Homo sapiens: one gene and its partners. The protein of the gene in region 1 purifies or fractionates together with the protein of each later gene. This does not show direct contact. Each region holds a gene or a part of one and is shown in the gene's direction. Other genes may lie near its edges.

Evidence for each region.
Region 2: the proteins of ZNF556 (region 1) and ANKS3 purify together in Homo sapiens (affinity purification with mass spectrometry; 2 studies listed by BioGRID and IntAct, with this or other methods). This does not show direct contact.
Region 3: the proteins of ZNF556 (region 1) and LRP4 purify together in Homo sapiens (affinity purification with mass spectrometry; 2 studies listed by BioGRID and IntAct, with this or other methods). This does not show direct contact.

The regions. Positions count from the first base shown.
Region 1 is NC_000019.10:2,870,235-2,873,981, forward strand, and holds part of ZNF556 (zinc finger protein 556), read left to right. Parts: intron 1-3,261; coding exon 3,262-3,388; intron 3,389-3,747. UniProt on the Homo sapiens protein: May be involved in transcriptional regulation.
Region 2 is NC_000016.10:4,699,635-4,703,381, reverse strand, and holds part of ANKS3 (ankyrin repeat and SAM domain-containing protein 3), read left to right. Parts: intron 1-1,139; coding exon 1,140-1,280; intron 1,281-1,838; coding exon 1,839-1,948; intron 1,949-2,247; coding exon 2,248-2,412; intron 2,413-3,747. UniProt on the Homo sapiens protein: May be involved in vasopressin signaling in the kidney.
Region 3 is NC_000011.10:46,897,902-46,901,648, reverse strand, and holds part of LRP4 (low-density lipoprotein receptor-related protein 4 precursor), read left to right. Parts: intron 1-1,270; coding exon 1,271-1,387; intron 1,388-1,672; coding exon 1,673-1,786; intron 1,787-2,145; coding exon 2,146-2,262; intron 2,263-2,616; coding exon 2,617-2,745; intron 2,746-2,971; coding exon 2,972-3,091; intron 3,092-3,344; exon of another isoform or gene 3,345-3,453; intron 3,454-3,747. UniProt on the Homo sapiens protein: Mediates SOST-dependent inhibition of bone formation. Functions as a specific facilitator of SOST-mediated inhibition of Wnt signaling.

The DNA.
Region 1 (3,747 bases):
TCAGGAGTTCGAGACCAGCCTGACCAACATGGTAAAACCCTGAGTCTACTAAAAAATAATAATAATAATAAAAATTAGCCAGGCATGGCGGCACACACCTGTAATCCCAGTTAGTTGGGAAGCAGGAGGATGGCTTGAGCCCAGGAGTTCAAGGCTGCGGCGAGTTCTCATTGCGCCATTGCACTCCAGCCTGCACAGCAGAGTGAGACCTTGTCTCTAAAAAATTTTCTGGCCAGGCACGATGGCTCACGCCTGTAATCCCAGCACTTTGGGAGGCCGAGGCAGGCAGATCACTTGAGGTCAGGAGTTTGAGACCAGCCTGGCTAACATGGTGAAACCTCATCTCTACTAAAAATACAAAAATCAGTTGGACGTGGTGGCACACGCCTGTAATCCCAGCTACTCGGGAGGCTGAGGCAGGAGAATCGCTTGAACTCTGAAGGTGGAGTTTGCAGTGAGCCGAGATCATGCCATTGCACTCCAGCCTGGGCGACAGAGTGAGACTCCATCTCAAAAAAAAAAAGGCCGGGCGCGATGGCTCACACCTGTAATCCCAGCACTTTGGGAGGCCGAGGCAGGTGGATCACAAGGTCAGGAGATCGAGACTATCCTGGCTAACACGGTGAAACCCTGTCTCTACTAAAAATACAAAAAATTAGCCAGGCATGGTGATGTGTGCCTGTAATCCCAGCTACTCGGGAGGCTGAGGCGGGAGGATCACTTGAACCTTGGAGGTGGAGGTTGCAGTGAGCCGAGATCGCACCATTGCACTCCAGCCTAGGTGACAGAGCGAGACTCTATCTCAAAAAAAAAAAAAAATTCTAAAGACTATGACACAGGATAAAGAATATATGAAAACACAGAGGTTGCAGTGAGCTGAGATCACGCCACTGCACTCCAGCCTGGGCGACAGAGTGAGATGCCGTCTCAAGAAAAAAAAAAGTATATGACATACACATATATACAGTTAAATGTTATTCAGTCATAATAAAGAAGGAAATCCTGCCATTGGTGACAGCACTGATGAACCTGGGGCACATTATGCTATGTGAGACAAACCAGGCATAGAAAGATGAATACCGGATGATCTTACTTACATGAAGAATCAAAAAGAACCAGATTCCTAGAGGAAGAGAGTAGAAGAGTGATTGCCTGCGGCTGAGGGACAGGGGAAGTGGGGAGAGATGTTGGTCAAAGTGAACCAACTTTCCATTGTAAGGTGAATAAATTCTCTACATCCAGTGTCCAAATGGTGACTGTATTTAAGGATACTGTAATGTATACTTGAAATACACTGGGCCTGGTGCGGTGGTTCACGCCTGTAATCCCAGCACTTTGGGAGGCTGAGGTGGGTGGATCACGAGGCCAGGGGTTCGAGACCAGCCTGACCAACATGGTGAAACCCCATCTCTACTAAAAATACAAAAATTAGTTGGGCATGTATAGGGACCAGCCCCACAGGGTCGGTGGGTTTCTCCCCATGTGCAGAGACAAGAGAGCGTAGAAATAAAGACACAAGACAAAGAGATAAAAGACAGCTGGGCCCGGGGGACCACAACCACCAAGTCGCAGAGACCGGTAGTGGCCCCGAATGCCAGGCTGCACTGATATTTATTGGATACAAGACAAACGGGCAGGATAAGGAGTGTGAGCCATCTCCAATGATAGGTAAGGATGCATGGGTCACATGTCCACTGGACAGGGGGCCCTTCCCTGCGTGGCAGCCGAGGCAGAGAGAGAGAGGAGACAGAGAGTGAGACAGCTTATGCCATTATTTCTGCTTATCAGAGACTTTTAGTACTTTCACTAATTTGCTACTGCTATCTAGAAGGCAGAGCCAGGTGTACAGGATGGAACATGAAAGCGGACTAGGAGCGTGACCACTGAAGCACAGTATCACAGGGAGGCGGTTAGGCCTCGGGATAACTGCGGGCGGGCCTGACTGATGTCAGGCCCTCCACAAGAGGTGGAGGAGTAGAGTCTTCTCTAAACTCCCCCGGGGGAAGGGAGACTCCCCTTTCCTGGTCTGCTAAGTAGCGGGTGTTTTTCCTTGACACTTACGCTACCGCTAGACCACGGTTCACTTGGCAACAGGCGTCTTCCCAGACGCTGGCGTTACCGCTAGACCAAGGAGCCCTCTGGTGGCCCTGTCTGGGCATAACAGAAGGCTCGCACTCTTGTCTTCTGGTCACTCCTCACTATGTCCCCTCAGCTCCTATCTCTGTATGGCCTGGTTTTTCCTAGGTTATGATTATAGAGCGAGGATTATTATAATATTGGAATAAAGAGTAAGTACTACTAACTGATGATTAATTATATTCATATATAATCATATCTAAGATCTATATCTGGTATAACTATTCTTACTTGATATTTTATTATACTGGAACAGCTCATGTCCTCGGTCTCTTGCCTCGGCACCTGGGTGGCTTGCTGCCCACAGGTGTGGTGGCGGGCACCTGTAATCCCAGCTACTCAGGAGGCTGAGGCAGGAGAATTGCTTGAACCCGGGAGGTGGAGGTTGCAATGAGCCGGGATCGCGCCACTGCACTCCAGTCTGGGTGACAGAGCGAGACTCCATCTCAAAAAAAAAAAAAAAAAAGAAATATACTAAAAGGCCGGGTGTGGTGGCTCACGCCTGTAATCCCAGCATTTTGGGAGGCCAAGACAGCTGGATTACTTGAGGTCAGGAGTTCAAGTGCAGCCTGGCCAACATGGTGAAACCCCATCTCTACTAAAAATATAAAAATTATCCAGGCATGTTGGTGTGCATCTGTAATCCCAGCTACTTGGGAGACTGAGGCAGGACAATCGCTTGAACCCAGGAGGCGCAGCTTGCAGTGAGCCGAGATCGCCCTACTGCACTCCAGCCTGGGGCGACAGAGCAAGACTCCGTCTCAAAAAAAAAAAAAATGAAATGTACTAAGAGTGTAAATCTTACTTGTTCTTACCATCAGATTTTTTAAAAAGGTAACTGGTAACAGATGTGTTAATTAACTTCATGGCAGTCATTTCCCAGTGTATATGTGTATCAAATCATCACCTACACCTTAAATGTATACAACTTTTATTTGTCAAAGACAAAAAAACCTACGACACAGGAAGTGATTACAGACAGAGGGGAAGAGGTCTGAGGACTGAGTCTTAAATAGATATTGGCAGACTGCAGGATCTTGTGTGAGTGTCCTATGAACTGAGTTCAGTTCCGCAGTGCTGTGAGTTTTACCCCATCCTCATGTACACATATGTGGTTTGTTTTAGGACACAGTGGTCTTTGAAGACGTGGTTGTGGATTTCACGCTGGAGGAGTGGGCCTTGCTGAATCCTGCTCAGAGAAAACTCTACAGAGATGTCATGCTGGAGACCTTCAAGCACCTGGCCTCAGTAGGTGAGGATAGCATTATTTCTGCACTTAGTTATTAGATAATAAATGTTTTGTCTGGTTGCAGTGGTTCATGCCTGTATTCCCAGTGCTTTAGGAGGCTAAGGCAGGAGGATCACTTGAGGCTAGGAGTTGACAACCAGCCTGGGCAACATAGTGAGACCTTGTCTCTACAAAAAAAAAATCAAAAATTAGCCCGGTGTGGTAGCATGCTCCTGTAGTCCTAGCTACTTGAGAGGCTGAGGCAGGAGAATCGCTTGAGACCAGGAGTTCAAGGCTACAGTGACCCATGATCACACCACTGTACTCCAGCCAGGGTGACAACTTGAGACCCTGTCTCAAATAAAAAAGAAAAAAGAGCCAGG
Region 2 (3,747 bases), on another chromosome or scaffold:
GCACTTTGGAAGGCTGAGGTAGGAAGATTGCTTGGGCTCAGGAGTTGTGAGACCAGCCTGGGCAATGTAGCAAGACCCTATCTCTACAAAAAATTTTGAAAATTAGCCAGATATGGTGGCCCATGCCTGTAGCCCCAGTTACATGAGAGGCTGAGGTGGAAGGATTGCTTGAGCCCAGGAGGTCAAGGCTGTAGTGACCCATGATGGTGCCATTGCATTCCAGTCTGGATAACACAGCAAGACCCTGTCTCAAAAACAGTTTAGGGGGCAATGATAAATAGCATGTGCTGATTAGAAAAACTTCTCCATAACTAGGAAAATACGTAAAGAGGAAAGTAAGTTCCCCATGGTCCCATCAACCAGTCCTTTGGGTTCTTTTTTGAGACAGGGTTTCACTGTAGCCCAGGCTGGAGTGCAGTGGCACGATCATAGCTCACTGAAGGCTCCAGTTCCTGAGCTCAAGCGATCCTCCTGTCTCAGCCTCCCAAGTAGCTGAGATTACAGACATGTGCCACCGTGACTGGTCAAGTCAGTCTTTTTATGTAAAGGGGCAAAACTGGAGTGAAATTGCCTGGTATACATGCCCCTTTTTCTGCTTGGTTTTAGAGGCAGGTAGAGTTAGGTAATTTCATATTATTGTTGTTAATTTTTACCTCAAGGCCTTTTTCCTTCCTGCTCAGCCAGGTCTCTTTTTCGCCGGGGTTGACTGACCAGAGGAGGCCCGCTAAGCGCCTGTGGTTAAAGGTCACAGGGACATAAAGACACGTGGTCGATGGGTGTCTGTGTGAGGTCATTAGCTACCTCCTGCTAAAAGGAACACTCATGGTATAGTTTTCTCTGGTCAGGCATCTGTAAATACAGCTGACCATTTGCTACGTTTTCCCCTTGGAAAAGAAATGGAGAGGGCCCAGGCTTGACCTGGCTGCCAGCCCTCGCCCCACCAGGCACTTGCTTGGGCCACTGACTGACCCTCAGAGCATCTTTTCCACCCACACACCACAGATAGAGCCATGCCAGGTCGCAGGGGCAAGTAGGTGAGGTCATGACTGGGAAGTCACCTGCCTCCATCCTGGGCCTCGGCCTCTGAGGAGGTTTCACTTTGGAGTTCCCTGGGCTTATGGGCCCCATTCTGTACACAGAGCAGGCTCCTCCCCGTGGCTATGTCACCTTCAACAGCAGTGGCGAGAACCCCCTGGAAGAAGAGGGCCTCTGCTGCCGGGATGTCACCTCCCCCATCAATGAGCGGGATGTGGAGAGCAGCAGCAGCAGCAGCAGTCGGGGTACGTGCACCCCCACCCATCCGGCCCGTGGCTCAGGCAGGTCCTGGAGCTCCTGTGTGCCCATCCCCACTTATCCCCTGGGCCTGGCGCTGGACACAGCCATCCAGCAGAGGACAGGAAAGGGGTAGGTGTGGACGGCCCTGGTTCTTGTGAGGAATGGGAGAAGCTTCTGGTCCAGCATCCCCGTGCGGCTTAAGGGAGCCGTTCCACAGCAACAGGTTTAGCTCCTTGCTTGGGAGCCCCTGAGGCTTTCAGGGCAGGCCCCAGTAGGAATGTCTGTTATAACTGCACCTCCGTGCAGCAGCTGTTTCCATAGTGCCCACCGTGTGCCAAGCACTGCTCCGGGTGCTTGGGATTTATCAGTGAACAAAAAAGACAGAAGCCCTGCCCGTCTGTATAGAGGGGAGGGTTTAGGACAGGCAGGAAGTTTGAAATATAAGGAAGCAACCGCTGCAGGCCCCAAGGAGTGCCCTGGTGGAGGCGGCTCAGCCCGGGGCACGCCCATGCGCAGCACCTCGGTGAGGGCTGCAGGCGGACGCCCTGTCTTCCCGCCCTCAGAGGAACATGCTTTCTGTGCCAACCTGGGGCCCGTCCAGAGCAGCAGCAGCAGCGAGGGCCTGGCCAGAGCCCAGGGGCTCAGCAGCGAAGCTTCTGTGGAGAGCAACGAGGTACGGATTCTTTCTTTCTTGGTCTCCCATAGCCGGTCCCTGGCTGGGATGCCTGACATCCCCCAGTTACTTTAAGATGAGCATGTATGTAAGAAGCAGCTGCTGCACGTGTGTGCTGCACTGGGACGTGCTGTGTCCAGGGTCTGGCTTCTCAGACGACAGCGAACGCACCGGAAGCCCCTGTGTGGCGGGTGGGGGGTTTCACGAAGCCTCTCAAGCCCCTGTGTGGCGGGTGGGGGTTTCACCAAGGCTCTCAAGTTAGCCCGCGCACTCTTTCAGATGCACGCCTCTCACTGCAGGACTCGGATCATGCCTGTAAAAGCTCAGCTCGCAAACAAGCTAAAAGTTACATGAAGACCAAGAATCCTGACAGCCAGTGGCCTCCCCGCGCTGCAACTGACAGGGAAGGCTTTCTCGCTGAGTCCAGCCCCCAGACTCAGAGGGCCCCCTACTCAGGACCCCAGGTAAGACCGCTTGTGAAACTGGAGGTTACACTCAGAGACGGCACTTTTTGTGACTTAGGAGGCATGTGTTGTGTATATGACGTGCCAGGCGCTGCTAGGAGAACAGAATGGCGGTGGCATCCCCATGGCCTGTTAGGCTCCACAGGCTCACAGCCGGCTCCATGGCTGGCAGCCCCGCTGCAGCGCTTCTACTCTGTTCCTCTCCACGGAAAGGACCTGTCTCCCTGCTTTCCATACTGGAGTTGGCCTCCCTGAGCCTGGGGAGAAGAAAAGCACACTTGACCTCAGAGCTGCCTGCAGGAGTCTGACAAGATGTGGTTGAAGCAGAGACAGGAACTACACACAGTGTGTGCTTGGTGATGGTTACAGCTGCCACCATCCTCCTCCTTTCTGTGGTCCCTCTGACCACACATTACCTTAGGGATCAGAGGTGTGACTCACAGCTCAGCTGTCTCACCTGTGTCTGCTGAGTTCTCCTACCCTGTGTGGGCAGAAGAGGCACGGAGAGGAGAGGCAGAGGGAAGCTCTGGTTGGTTATTTGGTTTGTTTGTTCGAGACGGAGTCTCGCACTGTCATCTGGGCTGGAGTGCAGTGGCGCGATCTCGGCTCACTGCAACCTCCTCCTCCTGGGTTCAAGCGATTCTCCTGCCTCAGCCTCCCAAGTAGCTGGGATTACAGGCACCCGCCACCATGCCCATCTAATTTTTTGTATTTTTAGTAGAGACGGGATTTCACTATGTTGGCCAGGCTGGTCTCAAATTCCTGACATCGTGATCCGCCCGCCTCGACCTCCCAAAGTGCTGGGATTACAGGCGTGAGCCACCACACCTGGCCTGGTGCCATGCCCGGCCTGGCTGGTTATTTGTTAAAGCACTGGCTTTGCTGTTCAGTAGAGCCTTGGATTTGCCGGCTTCTCCCTGCAGCCCCTGGCTCAGTGAGCAGGCACACGTCTCGGTCCCTTCAACATACGTTGAGTGGAGTCTGGTCAGGGTAGTGTCCTAAGTATGTTTCTTTCAGAAAATAGCTTGAAGAAAATGTCAGAGTAACATTTGTTTGTCCATTAAAAGCAATAAACTCTCAAAAGTAGGATTTCTGGAGTTGAAAAGTAAATGAAATGAAAATATCACTAGACGAGCTCACAGCAGAATTGAGCAGGCAGAAGAGTCAGACAACTTGTGAACACAGGTCACCTGAGATCATCTCGCTTGAGGAACAGAAAGAATGAGTAAAAAAAATTAACAGAAATCTGTGATCCCCTCAAGCACACCGACACCACCCCATACAGTGGCATTCCAGAAGGAGAGCAGAAACGATGGGTGAGAAACAGCCTGACCA
Region 3 (3,747 bases), on another chromosome or scaffold:
CCCTGCTAAGCCAATAGTCTGGATTAGAGGCGCAATCTCTGACCTACCTGTAGCATCTATGTCTGAGGGTGGCTAATTAGTCTAATGGGAACGGAGGTACAACCTGGACCTCATTAACCCTAACCAGTTCAGCTAATTGTGTTGATGATAAATGCTTCACTTTCATGTAGCATTTTCATAGGCATTATATCAAAAGGCCTCTATGAACTGAGTATAATTATCCCCATTGTACAGCCAAAAAGACTTCAGCTCAGAGAGGGTAAATGACTTGCTCAGAGTGTTACGTAATGAACTGGAAATTGAGCCCGGGTGTGTCAATCATCATTTAACAAGAGGAAAGGAGGGGAAAAAGGCGCTTCTTTCTCTTGCTCATGTTTTTCTTATGTTTTCTTAGCTCCTGTGAGTTCTTTGGGTTGTTCTTCCCCTACCCTGTGAACCCCTCACCACAATTACCTTTTGAATCTCTGTCTTAGCTGCAGTTTCTGCTTAGCTTCTCCATCAGCTGGGGATGGGCCTAGGAGTCAGTAAGGAAGGACTATAAAACAGACAAGGGGGCTGGGTGTGGTGGCTCACGCCTGTAATCCCAACAGTTTGGGAGGCCAAGGCAGGTGGATCTCTTGAGGCCAGGAGTTCGAGACTGGCCTGGCCAACATGGCGAAAACCCACCTCTACTAAAAATACACACAAAAAAAAAGATAGCTGGGTGTGGCAGCGGGCACCTGTAACACCAGCTACTCGGGAGGCTGAGGCATGAGAATTCCTTGAACCCAGGAGGCGGTGGTTGCAGTGAGCCGAGATCATACCACTGCACTCCAGCCTGGGTGACAGAGTCAGACTCTGTTTCAAAAAAAAAAAAAAGGCCAGGCGCCATGGCTCATGCCTGTAATCCCAGCACTTTGGGAGGCTGAGGCAGGCAGATCACCTGAGGTCGGGGGTTTGAGACCAGCCTGGCCAACACGACAAAACCCTGTCTCTACTAAAAATGCAAAAAACAAAAACAAAAACCAAAAAAACCTAGCCAGGTGTGGTGAAGCATGCCTGTAATCCCAGCTACTTGGGAGGCTGAGTCAGAATCGCCTGAACCAGGAGGCAGAGGTTGCAGTGAGCCAAGATTGCGCCACTGTACTCCAACCTGGGTGACAGAGTAAGACTCGGTCTCAAAAAAAGAAAAAAAGACAAGGGGATTTGGAGCAAAAGGCTATCTGGCCTAGTTGAGCCTGAGTAAGAATACCAGGTTGATTGACTTTTCTTTTCTTTTCCTGGGATTCAGTACTACCTACCTGTTCCCCTCTTGACTTTCACTGTGACAATGGCAAGTGCATCCGCCGCTCCTGGGTGTGTGACGGGGACAACGACTGTGAGGATGACTCGGATGAGCAGGACTGTCGTGAGTGTTGGCAGAGGCTGGGCGGAACTCCATTGAGTTCCACTGGGAAAGGATTTTCAATCAGAAAGCAATGCCCCAGGTCCACATGAGCCCTTGTGTTTTCAGCACTTTGTCCTGTCCTTTCACTTCCTCTCGAAGTCAGATAAGCTGCTGAGAGGCAGCCACCTCCTTCGGAGCCCTCAGGGCAGCACTGGAGCTACTTGACTGCTCCGGAGGGCTTTAAGTCAGGCTTCCAGGCACCAGACCCCCACTGCCTGCAGCAGCCTGACTGCTCTGTGCCCACAGCCCCCCGGGAGTGTGAGGAGGACGAGTTTCCCTGCCAGAATGGCTACTGCATCCGGAGTCTGTGGCACTGCGATGGTGACAATGACTGTGGCGACAACAGCGATGAGCAGTGTGGTGGGTGACCCCAACGGGGGAAGGCAGGCAAGGTGGCCAGTGGGTGGCCTGGCCATGGGAGAAGATAGCAGCAATGGCCCTAGCACTGCCAAACCTCCAACTGCCCAGATATCTGGAGCAGCTAGAGGAACGCAGAGGGGGCAGAGCCGCTCAGACCCCCCAGAAACTGTGGACCAGGAGGCTGAGGCCCAGTCTCTCCAGGGCCTCCGTTCTCCCTGGAGAGTCTGCACTGACTCTGGGGTGCCTTTCGGGGGCTAGGTCAGACCCGCCAAAGCCAGTGAGGTTGGGAGTCAGAGAGGAGGGTGAGAGGGTTGCCTGTGGGGCCCCCTCAGAACTGCTGTCCCATCGCATCCCCCCAGACATGCGCAAGTGCTCCGACAAGGAGTTCCGCTGTAGTGACGGAAGCTGCATTGCTGAGCATTGGTACTGCGACGGTGACACCGACTGCAAAGATGGCTCCGATGAGGAGAACTGTCGTGAGTGGCCCCAGACCTCAGGCTGTTGGGTTGGATGAGGGCAGACAGTTCTGCCCATTGGCTAAGGGCGAGGCTGAGGAGTGCATGTACCAAGGGCAAGGAGCATGGGTGCCTCAGCAGCAGCTCCTCCTAGGCTGAGCTAGGGAGGGAGCAAGTTCCCCAGGTGGGAAGGGAAGGCTTCCTTTGGTCCACCTGAATATGGGCGTCTATAAGGGCTGTCCCAGATGAAACCTGGTTACATCTCACTTGAAGAAGCTCTCCTGCCTGAGCATCCTGCCTGCTTGAGGAATCAGGGCCCCTCTCCTTCATCCAGGCCTGAGTGTGTGCCCCTCCCCACCCCTGCCTTCCCTCCAGCCTCAGCAGTGCCAGCGCCCCCCTGCAACCTGGAGGAGTTCCAGTGTGCCTATGGACGCTGCATCCTCGACATCTACCACTGCGATGGCGACGATGACTGTGGAGACTGGTCAGACGAGTCTGACTGCTGTGAGTACTCTGGCCAGCTGGGAGGTGGGGAGGCCAGGCTGGGAAGAACTGCTTGGGTGGCAAGGCACAGTCGCCAGCTGGGGCAGGAGTTCAGAGAGGAGTTTCTGGATTTTCTGGTCCCTCTTGGGAAGAGATGGAGGAACTGGGATTCTGGGGCTGTGGCCTTCTAGTCTGCCATGGGACACTGCACAGACTGGCTAGAGACAGAAGTCTTGTGTTTCCCTAGCCTCCCACCAGCCCTGCCGCTCTGGGGAGTTCATGTGTGACAGTGGCCTGTGCATCAATGCAGGCTGGCGCTGCGATGGTGACGCGGACTGTGATGACCAGTCTGATGAGCGCAACTGCAGTGAGTGGGGAAATGGAATTAGGTTGGGCTTGAACTAAGGAGAAGGCTTGTGGAGCCAAAGAGGCCACTACCGGCTGGGCGCGGTGGCTCATGCTTATAATGCCAGCACTTTGGGAGACCAAGGTGGGTGGATTGCTTGAGGTCAGGAGTTCAAGACCAGCCTGGGTAACATGGTTAAACCCCATCTCTACTAAAAATACAAAACTTAGCTGGGTGTGGTGGCGCATGCCTGTAATCCCAGCTACTCGGGAGGCTGAGGCAGGAGAATCGCTTGAACCTAGGAGGCAGAGGTTGCAGTGACCCGAGACGGCGTCCCTGTAGCAGAGTGAGATGACATCTCAAAAAACAAGACAATCCGGGAGGTGAGGGGCGCCTCTGCCTGGCCGCCCCTACTGGGAAGTGAGGAGCCCCTCTGCCCGGCCAGCCGCCCCATCCAGGAGGGAGGTGGGGGGGTCAGCCCCCCGCCCGGTCAGCCACCCCGTCCGGGAGGGAGGTGGGGGGGTCAGCCCCCCGCCCGGCCAGCCGCCCCGTCCGGGAGGGAGGTTGGGGGGTCAGCCCCCCGCCCGGCCAGCCGCCCCGTCCGGGAGGTGAGGGGCGCCTCTGCCCGGCCGCCCCTACTGGGAAGTGAGGAGCCCCTCTGCCAGGCCACCACCCCG